3 separate regions of the Homo sapiens genome follow, and all the other regions are linked to region 3. Evidence: fine-mapped expression QTL. A gene starts in region 3. Each other region holds a variant in brackets. All regions are shown on one strand. Distances are between the middles of the regions.

Evidence for each region. PIP is the estimated chance that this variant, and not a neighbour inherited with it, causes the effect. A credible set is the group of variants that fine-mapping cannot tell apart.
Region 1: its variant is the best candidate, but not a certain one, in a credible set for the expression of HSD17B4 in Th1/17 cells (Schmiedel 2018, PIP 0.75).
Region 2: its variant is the best candidate, but not a certain one, in a credible set for the expression of HSD17B4 in stomach (GTEx, PIP 0.56).

Annotation. Positions count from the first base shown.
Region 1 is chr5:119,486,370-119,492,606 of GRCh38, forward strand. It overlaps HSD17B4 (hydroxysteroid 17-beta dehydrogenase 4), which reads left to right. Exons shown (of 24, transcript NM_000414.4): 9 at 2,823-2,914; 10 at 5,731-5,755. Among named protein-coding and RNA genes, the nearest start is that of HSD17B4, 37 kb to the left of the region's middle. The variant G/C (reference allele first, on the strand shown) is at 2,987.
Region 2 is chr5:119,690,271-119,696,507 of GRCh38, forward strand. No RefSeq gene overlaps it. Among named protein-coding and RNA genes, the nearest start is that of FAM170A, 64 kb to the left of the region's middle. The variant A/C (reference allele first, on the strand shown) is at 3,634.
Region 3 is chr5:119,449,015-119,455,251 of GRCh38, forward strand. HSD17B4 (hydroxysteroid 17-beta dehydrogenase 4) reads left to right here and starts at 3,483. Exons shown (of 24, transcript NM_000414.4): 1 at 3,483-3,619. The coding sequence starts at 3,562. RefSeq lists an enhancer at 3,584-3,633.

The DNA of each region.
Region 1 (6,237 bases), 37 kb after region 3:
GAGCATTTCCATAACTTGTGTCTATTTTTGTTACCTTTTTACCTCACCCCATTTCTTCCCCCAGGAGGTAATCACTTAAAGAGAATATTCATTCCCTTACCTTTAATTTTTTTTAATAAAAATTGCATGAATAAACACTTTATTGTTTGGTTTTCTTGTTTTTGATCTTTATGACATTTGTCATTTAAAAAAATTTGGGGGAATTGTACTTTGTCTTTCCATGCAATTTTAGGGCTCTAAGATTTATATAAAGCTGTAGCTCATTCGATTATATTGCTGCAAGACTGTTATGTGAATTTACTTAATTATTATTAATGAACATATCGGTTGCTTTTTAATTAATCTGCTTTTATTCTTGTACATGTGTTCTGGATTACAAGAACAAGAATTTTTCTAGGATATGTACTTCAAAGTAAAATTGTTGAGTCAGGAAGGGTACAAATGCTAATCAATAGTTAACTTTTCTTTATAATATATTTTAAATTCCAACATTTCTATTCCATTGTAGTTCAAATCTGCTGTTTCTTTTAACTTTTACTCATAGTGGCTTCCCTTCATTGTGTGCTTGGTGATTTCTAATTACCAGCTCTTTACCTGATCTTTTTCTGTATTTGTTCTGTGTTCTAAATTGGCAATGTTTTCTTCAGAGAGGATCTGTCTTTGCTACTGCTGATTACCAGGAAGCATAGCCAATTTTGTTCTGCTTCAGTCTTCCTTAAAAGTTGAAGTTCAGCGTAGAACAGTTTAGGTTTAGGACCCCATCTTGATGCTGGCCTATCTCTGAGTACCTAGGTATCAGTATTGTTATTTGTATCATTCTCAGGGCAACCCTGCCTTCCCTGTAGCATGTAGCACTAGGGACTCTTTTCTATTTTTTTTTTTTTTTTTTCTGGTTGGAGGATACCTTCTTTATCTCAGTAATGCTTTAAAAGAATCTCATTTCTGGAAGCAGAAGTATTCCTCAGAGTACTTGGCTCACTGTAATGCTAGATATCCTGACATCTAGTATTGTGGAAGAAACACTGGGTTGAGTAAGTAAACCTTTCTATTTTTGATTTCATATAACTTTATATCTTAATAGCTATGGGACTTCTCTGATCTTTTATTTACTCTCTTAAGGTTGGTTTTTTATTTATAACATTGAGTTTAATAGATGCTGGCTAACCTAGGAGTTTGAGAATGAACTGGAAAGCAAGAATATTTGCTTATATTATTAGTGATAATATATAAAATAAACTGCAAGGCAGACGTATTTTTTTGTATGTGGCTTATGTTCTTTTCTTTTTTCTCACGTAAGGTAATAGATACTCTGTTGCATTTTATAGATATGTTTATTTCTCATTCAGTTTGAAGTTAGCCAACTCAAATATCCAAATCCCTGTACATAAATATCCTTTAACATTTAGTTTTGTCAATTGATGTATGGGAAATTAGAGGAATGTTATGTATTGAGATGAATGGATATTTAAGTTAATAATTTGTTTTAATGTACAATTTGAGATGGTTGGAGTCTTCCTTTTGTTTTTTCCTCGTGCATATAATGAAAAATGGAAGACAGGGTGCCATTGGAATGCTTGTGTACTTTTGAGAGCTTTTAGAGGCTATAAAGTGAAGAGTTTTTGCAACTACTTTTTAATTTACAGGACTATATACACCATCTTTTTTACTTTAACACATTAATACAAAATTGTATTTTGTCATTTCACAATTTTTGCATTTATTTGATCTTTTAGATAAAATTGTATGATTTGTAAGACACAAATTGTATCTCATTTGAGCCTTGGAACAACTTGGTGGAATAGGAAGCAGAAGCATTTAAATTACTAGCTTACTGATGAAGATACAGGCCCAGGGAAGTTGAATGATGGGCTCAGGTTCCTAAGTTGCTTGCATAGCAGGTTCAGTACCAAAATCAAAGTCTTCATGTTCTTCATGTAGTACCTTTCTGCTTCACCAAGGTACTCACAGAAAAGGTGCAGTGGTAAAGAGAAGTTGGCTAAGGGCTACGAAAGTAAGCTTAGATAGAAGGAATAAATTCTAGTATTTGATAGTACAATAGAGAAATTATAGATAACTATAATTTATTGTGTATTTCAAAATAGCTAGAAGAGAAGATTTATAATGTTCTCAACACAAAGACAAGATAAATGTTTGAGTTGATGGATATACCAGTTACCCTGATTTGGTCGTTACACATTGTATAAGGTATCAAAATATCACATGCACCTTCAAAATATGTACAACTATTATATATTAATTTTTAAAAAGTTCAAAAGGTAACATATGCAGTGGGAAATTAGTTCTTATACTTTGTGCACTCACCAGTGATGTCTTCAAGGTCTATTTCAATCATTATCTGCCTACCCTGGTGGTCTAGTGGTTAGGATTCAGCACTCTCAATCATTATTTGCCACTGTAATGGTCTAGGCTGTTTTGTGATTTTCTAGATTGTTGTTAATAGCTGGGAGAGTAGAATAATTTTGGGAATGAATGGTACCCAGATTTCTCATGTTAAATACAGTTTTGCTCACCAATCTTTGTCTAGGCAGTTCTAACTTTTCTTCTTCTGAACAGTATTAATATGTTACTCATCTTGGAAAGGTGTGTCTGATACTTACAATTTTAGAAGCTTGAGAGCCCTTTAGAAATGGCTCAGTTGAGATTACAAAAAGTTCTTCGCAAAGACTTAAATGTTAGACTAGTTATATACATACTAATTTTGTTCCTATTTTAAAGGTCTCTGAATTACCTATAATTTTATAAGTAAGAAATTCTTAGAAAGTAAAATGATTGATAAGATATGTGTATATTCTTTATTTCAGATCTTGTGGAAGCCCTGAAGCCAGAGTATGTGGCACCTCTTGTCCTTTGGCTTTGTCACGAGAGTTGTGAGGAGAATGGTGGCTTGTTTGAGGTATTTGCACCTTCCTGTTTTCTCTTATTAGTTTTCTCCAGTTGCTTACATTTGTAAAAATCTGTACCAGTG[G/C]ACATCACTTGTATATTTTTAAATATTGTGTCTATGTTATAATTAAAAGTGTTGACTAATATCCATTTTTTGGAAAGTAATAGTAACTTTATAAATTCTGTTTTTACTTAGTTCTACATTTGTAACATTCCTACCAAATGAAAATGTGGCTGGTTTGATCTGTTCGGTCAAAATGTGGGGAATTTCATTATTTAAGAAGCTGAATGATAAGGTGGAAAGATGAAGCTTGGAGTTTAGAGTCAACCAGGCCAGATTTTGAATTCTTATTCTGGGAATTGCAGATTTGACCTTCGTGAGCTTTAGTTTTCTGGGGCTTTCTTGTGACAACTACAAGTCATATTTTAAACCCTTGGCATAAGGCCTAATACATAGCACTCAACCACCAATTTTAATTATCAGTATAGCAGGAATTTAATCTTGTGTGATAGGTCAATAAATATAACATTATTTATTTTTACATAAAAAATGAACTTTTCTGTTTTTTTTATTGCAGAGCTTTAAATGTTTATTATAAAAATAATTATCCACACATAATCCCATCATGCAGTGAGATCCATTGTTCACTCTTTGATGAAAGTTCTTTTAGACCTTTTAAAGCCAATTTATATATTTTTGATTACTCATTTGAGTTTGATCTCTTTTTTCTAGCCTAAACTGTTGTATATTAGACCCCCCCCCATTTTAAATTATCTGTGGTAATAATGAACCTGTTGTATACAGAACCTGTTGTAAACCTGGCTCAATTTAAAGTGAGGGATATATTAGCTTATTTCATTTGAATGAAAAGCTGATGGGTAAGTTAAGACAAAAAAAACAGTTTGCATATCTCTGAGCAGATATATGCACCTCCACTTTCCTAATCACAGCCATTGGGTGTGAATTGTGGCATAGTAGAGGTAGAAAGAACTTTACAACTCTGTTTTATAGAAGAGGAAAATTTAATAATCTCAAGCCATCTGTAATTCAGAATTTTGCCTGCTCTACTTTTACCTCATTAAGGAATTTTTAAAAACTATTTATCTTTTACAGTTATGTTTATTACTAACTTTGTGAACAAAAATAATATGTGCTGTTTGTGAAAATTTCGAATATATAAGACCATATAAAAAATAAAATAAAAATTGCCTACATTATCACTATCCAGAGAGAACTAGTATGAATATTTTTATGTTTTTCCTTCCAGTCTTTTATTAGATATGTGTTTTATTTTTTATTTTTATTTTTTTTGAGGCAGAGTCTTTCTCTGTTGCCCAGGCTGAAGTGCAGTGGCGTGATCTTGGTTCATTCACTGCAACCTCCGCCTCCCGGACTCAAGTGATTCTCCTGCCTTAGCCTCCTGAGTATCTGGGATTACAGGCACCCACCACCAAACCCAGCTAATTTTTGTATTTTTAGTAGAGATGGGTTTCACCATGTTGGTCAGGCTGGTCTGGAACTCCTGACCTCAAATAATCTGCCCGCCTTGGCCTCCCAAAGTCCTGGGATTATAGGCGTGAGCTACCGCACCTGGCCTAGATAGGCGTTTTATACACCCAAACACACAGACAATTAGGATAATGCTGCAGATGAAGTTTTGTTATGTTGCTGTTTTCTTTTACTATATTGTGAACATTTTTAGTGAGGAACATTTAGCATGCATGATTGATAAACTATACTAAGAGCTGTGCATAATATCCTGACTTAAACCTTGAAAGTAAATTGCCACTTTTTGAAGTTCTGATAGATATCTAGAGTGGCAGATACAAATATTTTTTGGCTCAGCTGGAGCAATTGTTTTTAGCACCTGAGAGGAACTTGTAGCTTATTACTTCGCTTCCAAAATACAGTAAAAAGTGGTAGTTATTTTGCCTGTTATCAAAACCACTGCTGATTTGTCTAGTGTAACTTTATCAAGGCTGACTGGTTGTATCATAAAAGGTGTAGGCATATTAATATAGAGGCAAAGGATGATGAAAAGCCACACCCTTGAACTTAGAGCCACTAAGATGTCTGCTGATACATTTCTTCTATCATATGCATATGAAATTTTTGTGGTAAGTTTGGGTACACTGTAGTTGTGGTGTTTGAAGTGACAAACAGATTTTCTTTACATCAGACTCATCAGACTTTTTTTTTTTTTTTTTTAGGATTTTTCTTGAATGACCTCTAGAAAAAATTATAGCAGTGAAAATTTATCTTTCTGGGTAGCAGTTATTATTTGGTCATTTGTCTTATCTCTGCATAAAGATGTTTCATTAAAATGAGTATATGTAGTTCACTAAGTCAAATACTCATTTTATTTGGCTTTGGTTTTCTTTGTAATTCAGTAGGTCCTTCAAGAGGGACATTTATTTGGATCTCATGATATGCTAGGCAGTGTACTATTTATATTGTTTGCTTCATGGTAACCACATGAAATATGTACTGTCATTTTTATTTTACATTTGAGGAAACTTGGATCACATAATTTGGCCAGGGTAGTCAGTAGACAAATTTGTATCAAGCCTTGGTCTCTGACATCAGATTCATTCTTTTCTATTACATGCATTTCTACTTCATTGTACTGTTTTACGTTTGTGCTCCGATAACATGAGCAGTGCAAAGTCATGGGGGCCAGTGGACTCTTACAGAGCTGTATTATTTTCATCTCCTGTTGCCTTGAATTCTAATACTGCTAGTAGAGGAGCTGACTTTTTTCTAATTAAAACAATTGTATTAGTGATTTCACATTAGATGGTATAATGTTTTCCCCCTCTTTTTGGTAGGTTGGAGCAGGATGGATTGGAAAATGTAAGTCTCTCTCAGTTTTTGGTTTGTATAGATTATTTCCTTATCTTTAAACCTACATATCCAGTTGAGATGGGTAAGATTTTTGTCAAATGCCTAACCATTGGATATAGTGCTTGCATATTCAAACTTAAACATTGCTATAGCAACAGGTATTTTTAAACATTGTGATTGTCCTATAGGTCTGTGGCCCTTTCAAGACCCTATCTATTCTTCCTGTAGGTAGTCCTTATTCAGGACTTGTCCTGTTTTATTCAGAACTGGCTATTCCTTCAGACAGCATATATTGATAATCATCCTCCCATGTCTTTGACTTCCCACATGCTCGTTCTTGCTGTTTCAGCAGAGAAGTGAGTGGGAGGGAGAGCTGTTTTGGAAAAAGATGGGTTGAGCCTATTCTAGAGCAGCAGGCAAGTTCTCCAATTTTCCCATGTAATTATTTTCTTCCATGAAGCAGGAGACGTCAAGGGGAGTGAGGAATCACA
Region 2 (6,237 bases), 240 kb after region 3:
GGAGCCTACAGAGGCAGGCAGGCCTCCTTGAGTTGTGGTGGGCTCCACCCAGTTCGAGCTTCCCGGCTGCTTTGTTTACCTAAGCAAGCCTGGGCAATGGCGGGCGCCCCTCCCCCAGCCTCGTTGCCGCCTTGCAGTTTGATCTCAGACTGCTGTGCTAGCAATCAGCGAGATTCCGTGGGCGTAGGACCCTCTGAGCCGGGTGTGGGATATAGTCTCGTGGTGCGCCGTTTCTTAAGCCAGTCTGAAAAGCGCAATATTCGGGTGGGAGTGACCCGATTTTCCAGGTGCGTCCGTCACCCCTTTGTTTGACTAGGAAAGGGAACTCCCTGACCCCTTGCGCTTCCCAGGTGAGGCAATGCCTCGCCCTGCTTCGGCTCGCGCACGGTGCACGCACACACTGGCCTGCGCCCACTGTCTGGCACTCCCTAGTGAGATGAACCCGGTACCTCAGATGGAAATGCAGAAATCACCTGTCTTCTGCGTTGCTCATGCTGGGAGCTGTATACCGGAGCTGTTCCTATTCGGCCATCTTGGCTCCTCCTCTCCAAATTCTTAACACATTCCAGCACTAACTCAAAAGTTCACGTCCAAAGTCTCATCTGAGACAAACAAGTTCTTTCCACTTATGAGCTAGTAGAATCAAACACAGGTTAGTTCCTTCCAAGAGACAATATGGGTACAGGCATTGGGTAAATACACCTGTTCCAAGTGGGAGAAATTGGCCAAAACAAAACGGCTACAGGCCCCAGGCAAGTCTAAAATCCAATAGGGCAGTCATTTAACCTTAAAGTTCCAAAATGATCTTTGACTCCATGTCTCACATTCAGGGCACGCTGATGCAAGAGGTGGGCTCTCATGGTCTTGGGCAGCTCTGCCTCTGTGGTTTTGCAGGGTACAGCCCCCCTCACTGCTTTCATAGTTGACATTGACTGTCTGTGGCTTTTCCAGGTGCATGGTGCAAGCTGTTGGTGGATCTACCATTCTGGGGTCTGGAGGACAGTGGCCTTCTTTTGACAACTCCACTAGGCAGTGCCCCACTGGGGACTCTGTGTGGGGACCCTGACCCCACATTTCCCTTCTGCACTGCCCTAGCAGAGGTTCTCCGTGAGGGCTCTGCCCCTGCAGCAGACTGCTGACTAGATATCTAGGCATTTCCATACATCCTCTGAATCTAGGTGGAGGTTCCCAAACCTCAGTTCTTGTCTACTGTGCACCTGCAGGACCCACACAGTGTGGAAACTGCTAAGGCTTTGGGCTGGCATCCTCTGAAGCAATGGCCTGAGCTATACCTTGGCTCCTTTTCGCCATGGCTGTAGCAGCTAGGATGCAGGGCACCAAGTCCAGAGGCTGCACACAGCAGGGAGGCCCTGGACCCTAGGCCTGGCCCAGGAAACCATTTTTCCCTCCTAGACCTCTGGGCCTGTGATGGGAGGGGCTGCTGCCAAGTTCTCTGAGATGCCCTGGAGACATTTTCCCCATTATCTTGGTGATTAGCATTTGACTCCTCATTACTTAAGCAAATTTCTACAGCCAGCTTGAATTTCTCCCCAGAAAATGGGTTTTTCTTTTCTTCTGCATTGTCAGGCTGCAAATTTTCCAAACTTCTATACTCTATCTTCACTTGAATGCTTTGCTTAGAAATTTCTTCTGCCAGGTACCCTAAATCATCTCTCTCAAGTTCAAAGTTCCACAGATCTTTAGGGCAGGGGCAAAAAGCCATCAGTCTTTTTGCTGAAGCAGAGCAAGAATGACCTTTACTCCAGTTCCCAACACATTTCCCACCTCCATCTGAGGCCACCTTAGCCTGGACTTCATTGTCTGTATTACTATCAGCATTTTGGTCAAGGCCATTCAACAAGTCTCTGGGAAGTTCCAAACATCCCCACATCTTTCTTCTTCTGAGCCCTCCAAACTGTTGCAATCTCTGCGTGTTACCCAATTGCAAAGTCACTTTCACATTTTCGGGTATCTTTACATAATTGTCCTATTCTCTGCAGTAGCAACGTACTGTGTTAGTCCGTTGTCATGCTGCTATGAAGAAATACCCAAGACTGTGTGATTTATAAACAAAAGAGATTTAATTGACTCACAGTTCTGCATGGCTGGGGAGGCTTCAGGAAAATTACAATCATGGTGGAAGGCACCTCTTCACTGGGTGGCATGAGAGAGAATGACACAGTGGGGGAAATGCCAGATGCTTATAAAACCATCAGAACTTGTGAGAACTCATTCAGCATGGGGAAACCGTCCCCATGATTCAATTACCTCCCACTGACACGTGGGGATTATGGGAACTACAGTTCAAGATGAGATTTGGAGGGTTGGGGGCACAGCCAAACCATATCATACTCTAAGGAGATAGAAGACCTGGTTTGTAATTCTAATGCTAATATTAGCAGTCTCTTTTGTAAGTTACTTAAATGCTCTGATTTGGCTTGAATTCCTTCATAAAGCAGATCCTATGTCAATGGCTTGAGAAATAGTTCCCATGTATATAGTGTATATATATATATGTACACTGTTAACTATCATAACCTAATCCAATAAAGCAGAATAAGCGTGATGAATTGGGAAGAGTGAAATGGGAAGGAAGACAGCCCATCTAAGGATGCATTTTTAAGAAAACGTCTGGGGGGAGATGGAGGTCAAAGCTTCTCTATACAATGTGCTTCAGAATCATCCATCCATGGGGATGTGTGCACCTCTCATGGGGAAGATGGAAATATTTATCTACCAGTTACTATCCTCTTTGATCGAAGGTTGTTCCAGGGTTGTTAATGCTCTCACACTTCTAGGTTTGCTCATGACTCAGCATAGACCAAACCTCACTGGACAGAGAAGCCTGGGGCAGAAAACAAATGAGAGGCAGTGCAGCTTGAGGGTCATTTTATCAAGATGTATCTGAGGCACCACTGATTGCCACATAAATGGCTTGAGTAAAGTGACAGGCCAAGGGGATGTAAGATGGGTTATAAAATGTATTTGGCACACTCCTTTACATTAGCATACACATAGTTTGATTATGTAAGTTATTTGCTCTACATGTGTTGATGTACATTTTCTGTTATTAGAACTATGTCAATGAGGAGATTAAATGAGATGTGTGTGAGAGTGCCCTGAAATATAAATCATATATAGAACTGTTCATTTTATATTAAGTTCTCCAAAGTTGAAAGTTAAACAGTGGTTGAACTTTTTTTTTTTAACTCATCAGTCTGTAGTTACTTGTGAAATCAGTGCCTCCTCTTAGTTCACTATATAACTGTACATGGATTTCAGCACAAGAAAATTGCTTTGAAGACCCAACAGGGCATACAGGACTAAATTCCAAATTGACATTGATGTGATCATTGAATTGTAAAAGCTCAAATAATTAATCTGTTTAATGCCTACTCATTTGGCTACTTACTTTCTTGGATGCTCTACCCCTAATATTCTGAGGTAAAAATTAAATAGAACAGAATAAAAGTTTATCCTAACTAGGTTAAAATGAGAGGCAGTGTGGCACTTCCTATTCTTTAGTTTAAATCAATCTGTGTTTTCCAAACTAAAATACAACTTTGAAATGTTTAATCTAATGCGTTGTCTTCCTGCTTTATGCTTGAATTCTCACTTCTTCACTCAGCCACT[A/C]TGGGATGTTGGTCATATTGTTGAACCTTTCTGGGCTTCAAGTTCCTCATTGCAAAATTGGAATATTAATATTTAATCCAATGACTTGTTATGAGGATAACTATAATGTCTTTGGAAGAGTTCTCGAAACTTAAAGACATTCAATAAGGGTTAGCTGCTATTATTACAATTATTATCACCATTTGTTTGACAAAGATCTGCAGCTTTATTTTCTGAGGGTTTAAATGTAGTGGTTATTTCTATTAATTCAATTAAATAATGAGCTTCTCTAATCTAACATTTTATATAAAACATAAAGGCTCTGAGAGTTGTCTTAATGTCCTGACTGAGAGATATTAAGTATAAAATCTTTTGACCCTTTGATAATACTTCTGACATCGTGAAAGCACTTAGCCTTTCTAAAGTTGGTTTTCTAAACAGAAAAATGATATCCCTGCCTGTATTAGTTTGTTTCAGCACTGTTATAAAGAACTACCTGAGACTGGCTAATTTATAAAGAAAAGAGGCTTGAGTCACAGTTACACATGGCTGGAGAGACCTCAGGAAACTTTCAGTCATTGTGAAAGGCAAAGGGGAAGCAAGGCATGTCATCTTACATGGTAGCAGGAGAGAGAAAAAGAGAGAGCAAGTGAGGGGGAAATTGCCACACTTTAAAACTATCAGAGCTTGTGAGAACTCGCTCACTATCATGAGAACAGCATAGGGGAAATCCACCCCTATGATCCAATCATCTCCCACCCGGTCCCTCCCCTGACACGTGGGGATTACAGTTCTACTTGAGATTTGGGTGGGGACACAAAGCCAAACCTTATCGCTGCCCGTAGCTGATTTAGAAATGACTTAAAAAGTCAAATACCTTGAAGAGGAATAATGATTTTGATAATGCTGTGTATTTATAAAAGTAGTTTTCCCCCCAAAGAGTTTGATGTGCCCTTATTTTTATTCCATTTAAGCCACATGTTCTCTTTGAAGGAGATTAGGGCACACACAGCATCTATGTAACAGATCTCTGTCTCATAGCCTTATATAAAAGATCGTAAGTGCAGCCCAATGTAATGAAGAGCTTGATTCATTTTTTTGAAGATTGACTGCTGATAGCTTAAGCCCCACCCCTCCCTCTTTCCCTTCTGCCCCAGTTTTGTGCACATTGATAAGAAAGCCTGGATACTTCCTCCTTTGGCCCCTGTGGGAAGTTCAAATCACATAAGCCCCTGCCTGGGCACAGGAACCCTCACGCCAGCCTCAGCCCCTAACCACCATAAAAACCTCATGCCAGTCTCCTTTCCCTGTTCTTGCAAGCCATTTTCAGTTCAGCTTGGGAAGCCAGCCCTGCTTCCCAGAAAGCCTCAGGTAAGTAATAAAGCTTCTCATAGCCTCATGGTATGTGTCATCAAACTTGGCATTCCAACTAAATATATTCTTCCACTCAACAGGCTGTCTCTTTACTCGGTTGATGATTTTCTTTGCTCTGCAGAAGATTTCAAATTTGTAGTCCCTTTTCTCTATTTTTGTTTTTGTTGCCTGTGCTTTTAAGTCTTAGTCATAAATTCTTTGCCTAGACTGAAGTTCAAGAGGGTGTTCTCTAGGGTTTTCTCCAGCATATTTATATTTTTGTGTCCTATGTTTAAGTATTTAATCCACCCTGAGTTGATTTTTGTATATGTTGAAAGATAGAGGTACAGTTTAATTCTTCTGCACGTGGTTATATAACATATTTTCCCAGTACCATTTATTGAAAATGGTGGCCCTTTACAAGGGGTGTTCCCAATATAAATTTTTATCAGCTTTTTCAAAGATCAGTTGGCTGTAAATATGTGGCTTTATTTATAAGTTCTCTATTCTGTTCCATTGGTCTATGTATCTGTTTTTATAGCAGTACTATGCTGTTTTGGTTTCTGTAGCCTTATTATATATTTTGAAGTCAGGTAATTTGATGTTTCCAGCTTTATTCCTTTTGCTCGGAATTGCTTTGGCTGTTTGCCAGGTTGGTTATTTGCCCATTTTTTTTCTATTTCCTTTAAGAATGATGTTGGCATTTTGATAGCAATTGCAATGAATCTCTAAGTTGTTTTGGGGAATATGGTCAATTTAATGATATTAATTCTTGTGATCCACGAGCATGAGAATTTTTCCATTTGTTTTTGTCATCTCCAGTTTCTTTCACCAGTGTTTTATAATTTTCGTTGTAGAGATCTTTCATCTATTTAGTTAAATTTACTCTTAGGTATTTTACTTTTTTGGTAGCTATTATAAATGGGATTGCTTTCTTGATTTCTTTCTTGACTGGATCATTATTGGTGTGTATAAATGCTACTGATTTTTGTATGTTGAATTTGTATCTTTCAACTTTATTGAATTCATTTATCAAATTTAAGAGGTTTTTTGGTGGAGTCTTTAGGTTTTTCTAGATGTAAAATCATATTATCAGCAAAGAGGGACAATTTGAATTCCTCTTTTCCAATTAGGATGTCTTTTGTTTCTTGCTATTACCTGATTGCTCTGGCTAAAGTTTTAGTAATGTGTTGAATTAAGAGTGGTGAAAACGTGCATCCTTGTCTGGTTTCGGTTCTTACAAAAAGGCTTTCAACTTTTCTCCATTCAGTA
Region 3 (6,237 bases):
ATAACCATTTTTCCTGCCAAACCACTCACCCTGTCACTCTCTTTAAATTAGCCAACTGGAATTAGTTTAACCTGTGTGGACTAACCCTAGGCAATAGGGGAATGACACAGCAGCAGGGGCCACATGCATCAGGAATAAGGACCCCTTCCCCTCCCTTGTCCGGGTGTGCGCTCACCATTGCTCCATCTGTGAGAGTGCAACCTTCTATAGAAGTAAACTGCGTTGCTGAGAAGAAAAAAAAATTTTATATTCGAGTGCTATTTCTTCTGTGGCACCAAAACTTTATTTATAACAGAAACCAAGCTGTCAGAGCTCTGGAACCATAGCTGTCTGCTAGGTGTCTCTAGCCATAGTTTTGCTTCCCCTTCACAGATGCAGTTTGTCTAAAATTGAAGCCATAACCCCTCCAAAGCCACTCTTTCTCCACTATTTATTTTGATGAATGGCCCATCGTAATCTAGATTTTCAAATCAAAATATAGGATTATTTCAGTTGCTCTTTTCTCATATCTACATCTAATTAATCAAAAAGACTAGTTCTGAAGCAGGAAATTTTCCTGACCCCTTCATGGGTGGGGGCAGGAACTGGAGCACATAGGATCTAGAACTAGCTGGCCGCTTTGGGTCTGGCAGGGGTGGACTCCATTCACTGGGTCCCACTGCGTTCCACAGGAACGGGGAGCACAGGTGAGTGGGTGCAGGAGCTGGGGCCAGTGCATGCAGGAGCAAAACTCTATGTGGCCCTTGGCAGTGTCTAGAGGGGTACCTAAGGCCCCTGAAGCCCCAGAGGGTGTGTGTTACAGTGCTCTTTTAACTTTGCCATCCACTGATGGCTTAAATGTTAAACAGCTCAGTAGGCCCTCTGTTTTTTGGTGTGAGGCACTTGCTCTCTGCCAGTGAGGGCAGAGGGTCAGTGTGACAGCCTTTAGTGTCACACCTGTGGCACCTGAGCTCTTGTTTGGCATCCAGGAAAAATCAGGTCACAGGAACAAATTGAATAATGGTGAATGCAGAGGATTTTATTGCCGATGAGAGTGGCTGTCAATGGGAAGGGGAGCTGAAAAGGGGATGGAGTGAGAAGGTGATCTTCCCCAGGAGCAACGCCATTAAGCCATACCTCTGAAGTCGAGCTGTTTCTTCTCTCCTCTCCTCTCTGCCATTGGAGCCTGGGGTTTTTATGGGCACAGGATGGGGGGCAGGGGGACCATAGGTGGTTTTGGAAAAGGCAACATTCAAGAGGGAAAACAGGGATGCATGTTCTCACTTTGGGCTGTGTTTTCAGGCTTGAGGTTGGAGCCCTCACTGGGGACCTGCCCTCTTCTGCCCAGAATTTCCCTGCCTTCTATCCCTGTCAGTTCCATTTGCAAATACAGTTTATCTCAACATTTCTTCTTCAACATTTCCTCTGCCTTACTTCTGGTTTCCATAATTTCCCCCAAATCTTTTCTATGTTCTCCTTGCCCACCTCTAATTATTGGGGGAACCTGCCCCCAATATTTCAACATAGGTTCTTTCTATTTTCCATAAGTGTCAGTCAGCTGAGAAATAGAGAAAGAGTACAAAGGGAGGAATTTTACAGCTGGGCTGCCGGGGGTGACATCACATATCAGTAGGACCGTGATGCCCACCTGAGCCTCAAACCAGCAAGTTTTTTATTAAGGGTTGCAAAAGGGAAGGGGGTGTAAGAACAGAGAGTAGGTACAAACATCACATGCTTCAAAGGGCAAAAAGCAGAACAAAGATCATATGCTTCTGAGGGAACAGGACAAAGGGCAAAAGCAGAACTACTAATAAGGGTCCAACAAAGATCACAAGACAAAGGGCAAAAGCAGAGCTACTGATAAGGGTCTATGTTCAGCAGTGCATGTATTATCTTGATAAACATCTTAAACAACAGAAACAGGGTTCGAGAGCAGACAACTGGTCTGACCACAAATTTACCAGGGCCGGGTTTTTCCCCACCGTAGTAAGCCTGAGGGTACTGCAGGAGACCAGGGCATATCTCAGTCCTTATCTCAACCACATAAGACAGAGCAGCCGTTTATAGACCTCCCCCCAGGAATGCATTCCTTTACCAGGGTATTAATATTAATATTCCTTGCTAGGAAAAGAATTTAGTGATATCTTCCCTACTTGCACGTCCGTTTATAGGCTCTCTGCAAGAAGAAAAATATGGCTGTTTTTGCCCAACCCCGCAGGCAGTCAGCCCATATGGTTGACTTCCCTTGTTCCCTAAAAATTGCTGTTATTCTGTTCTTTTTCAAGGTGCACTGATTTCATATTGTTCAAACACACATGTTTTACAATCAATTTGTACAGTTAACACAATTATCACAGTGGTCCTGAGGTGACGTACACCTTCAGCTTACGAAGATAACAGGATTAAGAGATTAAAGTAAAGACAGGCATAAGAAATTATAAAAGTATTATTTGGGAACTGATAAATGTCCGTGAAATCTTCACAATTTATGTTCCTCTGCTGCGGCTCTAGCAGGTCCCTCTGTTTGGGGTCCATGACTTCCCGCAACATCCAATCAATCCTCCATAATGGGCAAAGTGATCTTTCCATAGTGTAAATGTGTTCCCACCACTCTCTGGAGTAATCCTACTTAAAACCGTTTTCAGCACAAAATTCAAACATCTAAACATGATCTTGCTGGCTTTGCTTTTGTGGCTTTACCCTCTTTCTCCCCAAACCTAGCTAGTGTTTGTGCTGCCTGTAATGCCCTTCTTTCTTTGCAGGGGTCGCCACTTTAGGTCCTGGTCCTCCTTCAGAAAGTTTTTCCTCTTTCTCCCCAGCGGGGATAGGGTCTGTTTATTTTGACACCATTAGCTCACTTACACACATTGGTCACAAGTCTAGGCTGCACCGTTATTGAAAGTTTACCATCTGACTCTGAGTAGCTTGAGGATCCTATCAAAACTCAGGAGATGCTCAGTAAATGTTGATTGAACTATGACTGTTCTCAACATACAAACGCAAGATCATTTAGGAACACTTGTCAAAATGTTTTTGCCCCTTGAGATTCTATTTTGGGAGGTAAGCAGTGGGGGTCCAGGACTCTGCATTTTGACAGTCCCCTGATGTTTGCATGTAGAAGTGCAGGGATTATTACACTGACAAATCTTTACCATCCCTAAGGGGGACTTTCCTTCCCAGGGGCTATCTCTGGAAGCCCCTCAAGGATAGGGGCCGCATGCTGTTTCTCTAGGTCAGCAACTAAACCCAGAAAACGTTTATTGAGTGAATGATGAAACGACAGGTGAATAGATGAACGCAAGGTGTCGAGTTAACTATTCTTCTACACAAGTCCTAGCAGCTCCCATTGCTTCCAGCCGCAGAAATGGCCCCTGGAAGGCAAGTCTTCCAGCGAGTGGAGTCACTCTTAACTACATTTCCCAGGATTCCAAGGGAGCCGCGCGCTCTGCGCTCATCTTCCTACCAGAAATCGGCAAGTCACTGACCCTCGTCCCGCCCCCGCCATTCCCCGCCTCCTCCTGTCCCGCAGTCGGCGTCCAGCGGCTCTGCTTGTTCGTGTGTGTGTCGTTGCAGGCCTTATTCATGGGCTCACCGCTGAGGTTCGACGGGCGGGTGGTACTGGTCACCGGCGCGGGGGCAGGTGAGCATGCGAAGGTTGGAGGCCGCGCCCCTTGCTGAGGCGCAGCTGGCTGCTCTTTTCGGGCCGGCATACGCGCGCAGCCGCAGCTGAGGTCACCCCGCTGAGGTGGTGGGGAGGGGAATGGTTATTCTTGAGGCACCGCATCTCTTGAGGAGGAAAGAGCCGGAAACACCTGGTCTCTCAAGCAGGTACAGCCCGCTTCTCCCCAGCACCCCGGTGTGGGCTTCCCAAGGTCCTGCCTGAGAGGAGAGGCCAGGCTGGGCTGCTGATTGCAAAACTGGGTGAAAGTTCTCCCTGACCCTTATCTGTGGGCATCGATTGTTACTCTTCCTGCAATTAACTCTCTTAGATCTTTGCCTAGTCTTTTAAAGGACTGAAAAGCCGCGAGGGGCGGGGGCTGGAATTCGCCCCCTGAAGCGCAGAGATGTCAGCTCCTGAAAAGTCATTCGGTCGTTCAGTGTTTGTTTCCCTCTGTCGTAAGATTTTAAGTTCGTGAGAGGACCTTCTTTAAAGAGGGCGTCTGATAAGAGCCCTTCCCCGTTGGAGTTTGTATGCTTAGCAAGTCACAATCTGTTCTCGAAATCCACTGGAGTCTTGGCAGAGGTTGTAAGCTCAAATGCGCACAGGGGTCAGGCGTATGATGGAGAAAGAAAATGGGAGTAGGATGGGCACATCTGAGGAACTGGAGAGCAGAGAATTCCGAAGTGGACCGGCCAGTGGGAAAGTTGCCTGTATTTCAGGAGCGGCAAAATGGAAAATTGTTATGTGAAATAGCCCCATTTTTTAAAGTACAAAAAATTAAAACAAACCATTCATACCAACATAGATGCTGTGCAGTGAGATTTTACATTAGTTTCTCACCAGTGGGTGACCTCTGTAACCTCCAAGTGCAGGGATCTTGACATTATGCACCTTTGATTCTCCACTGGTAGTACCTTATACCTGGAAAGGCCCTAATGCATGAATTATTTGAGTTATATATTAAACGTTACAAACTGGAATTCTGTCAATTAATTCCTATGTACTTTCATATCTGTATTGATAAAGTGGCTTCTTATGCTGCCTTTCAGAAAATGCTTTCAGTGTTGATGAATAGCCAAGTATTTTATACCCATAGCTGTCTGGTTATCTCTGCATGGGCATGTATTTGGGTGTAGTCATACCTTCTAAATGTTTTTAGGAAAACATTTTGTTTACACTTTGCTTTTATTGTAAATAATGTATTTTACAACGCTTGGTGTTTTAAATCTTTTTTGACAGCTCTTGGATAATTTTCATGCAGGAGGTCCAGGGATTACATTCTAAGACGTTTTTGCCATCGCTAAGGAGACTTTCCTTTTCAGGGGCTATATCTGAAAATCATTCAAGGATAGGGACTGCTTCTTTTGACACCATTAGCATACTTACACATGGTATGCAGTACATTTTACACCAGTACTCAGTACACTTACACAAGCACATACATCTGTATTTAAAACCAGTTCATGATATAGTGTGTAGTACAGGCAATGCATCCTGAAATTTATTTTCTATTCTGTTTTATTTATAAATTGTAATTGTAACCCACAAAATTGATTTTGTGAAACAATGAGTTGTGACTAGACAGTTATGAACTTAGCACCTGCTGTTCATAAACTGGTTAAATTCTCTCTTACCCATTCAGAGTTGATTAAATTTTTTTTTTTTTTCAGAGCTAAAGGTTTTACTCTGTACCCAGGCTGGAGTGCAGTGACCCGATCATGGCTCACTGTAACCTTGAACTCCTGGGCTCAAGTGATCCTTTTGCATCAGCTTCCAGACTAGCTAGGACTGTAGGCATGTGCCACCACGCCCAGCTAATTTTTAAATGTTTTCAAGAGATGGAGTCTCGCTTTGTTGCCCAGGCTGGTCTCAAACTCCTGGCCTCAAGTGATCCTTCTGCTTGGATTAAATTCTAAAATAAGTTATTTGGTGAAATTTCCTAGTTTTGGAAAACTGTATATTTTTGGTTCTTTTTGTTTTTGTTTGAGAGGGAGTTTTGCTCTGTTGCCGAGGCTGGAGTGCAGTGACATGATCTTGGCTGACTGCAACCTCTGCCTTCCGGGTTCAAACAATTCTCCTACCTCAGCCTCCCAAGTAGCTGGGGGTACAGGTGCACACCACCAAGCCCAGCTGATTTTTGTGGTTTGAATAGAGACGGGGTTTCACCCTGTTGGCCAGGCTGGTCTTGAACTCCAGACCTCAAATGATCCGCCCACCTCTGTCTCATAAAGTGTTGGGATTACAGATGTGTGTCACTACTCCTGGCCTTGGGTTGTTTTTGGAAGGGGCTAATAATTTATGTATCTCAGTTTGTTATTTGTATACTTATTGATTAATTTATACTAAATATAAATTGTTAATTAAATTTATTCATTTGTCAATGAAATTTATCAATTAACTTAAAATGTAAAAAATATACACATATTAAAAAATGTAAACAATACAGAAAAACAATCCAGAAGTAAGCCTTCCACCCCTTATTGCTAGCCACATAGTTCTGTCCTCCAGAGGTAACCACTAATTGCCAGTTTCTAATGTGTTTTTCCCGAGATACTCTATGCCTATAAAACTTCTCTCTTGGCTGGGGATGGTGGTGG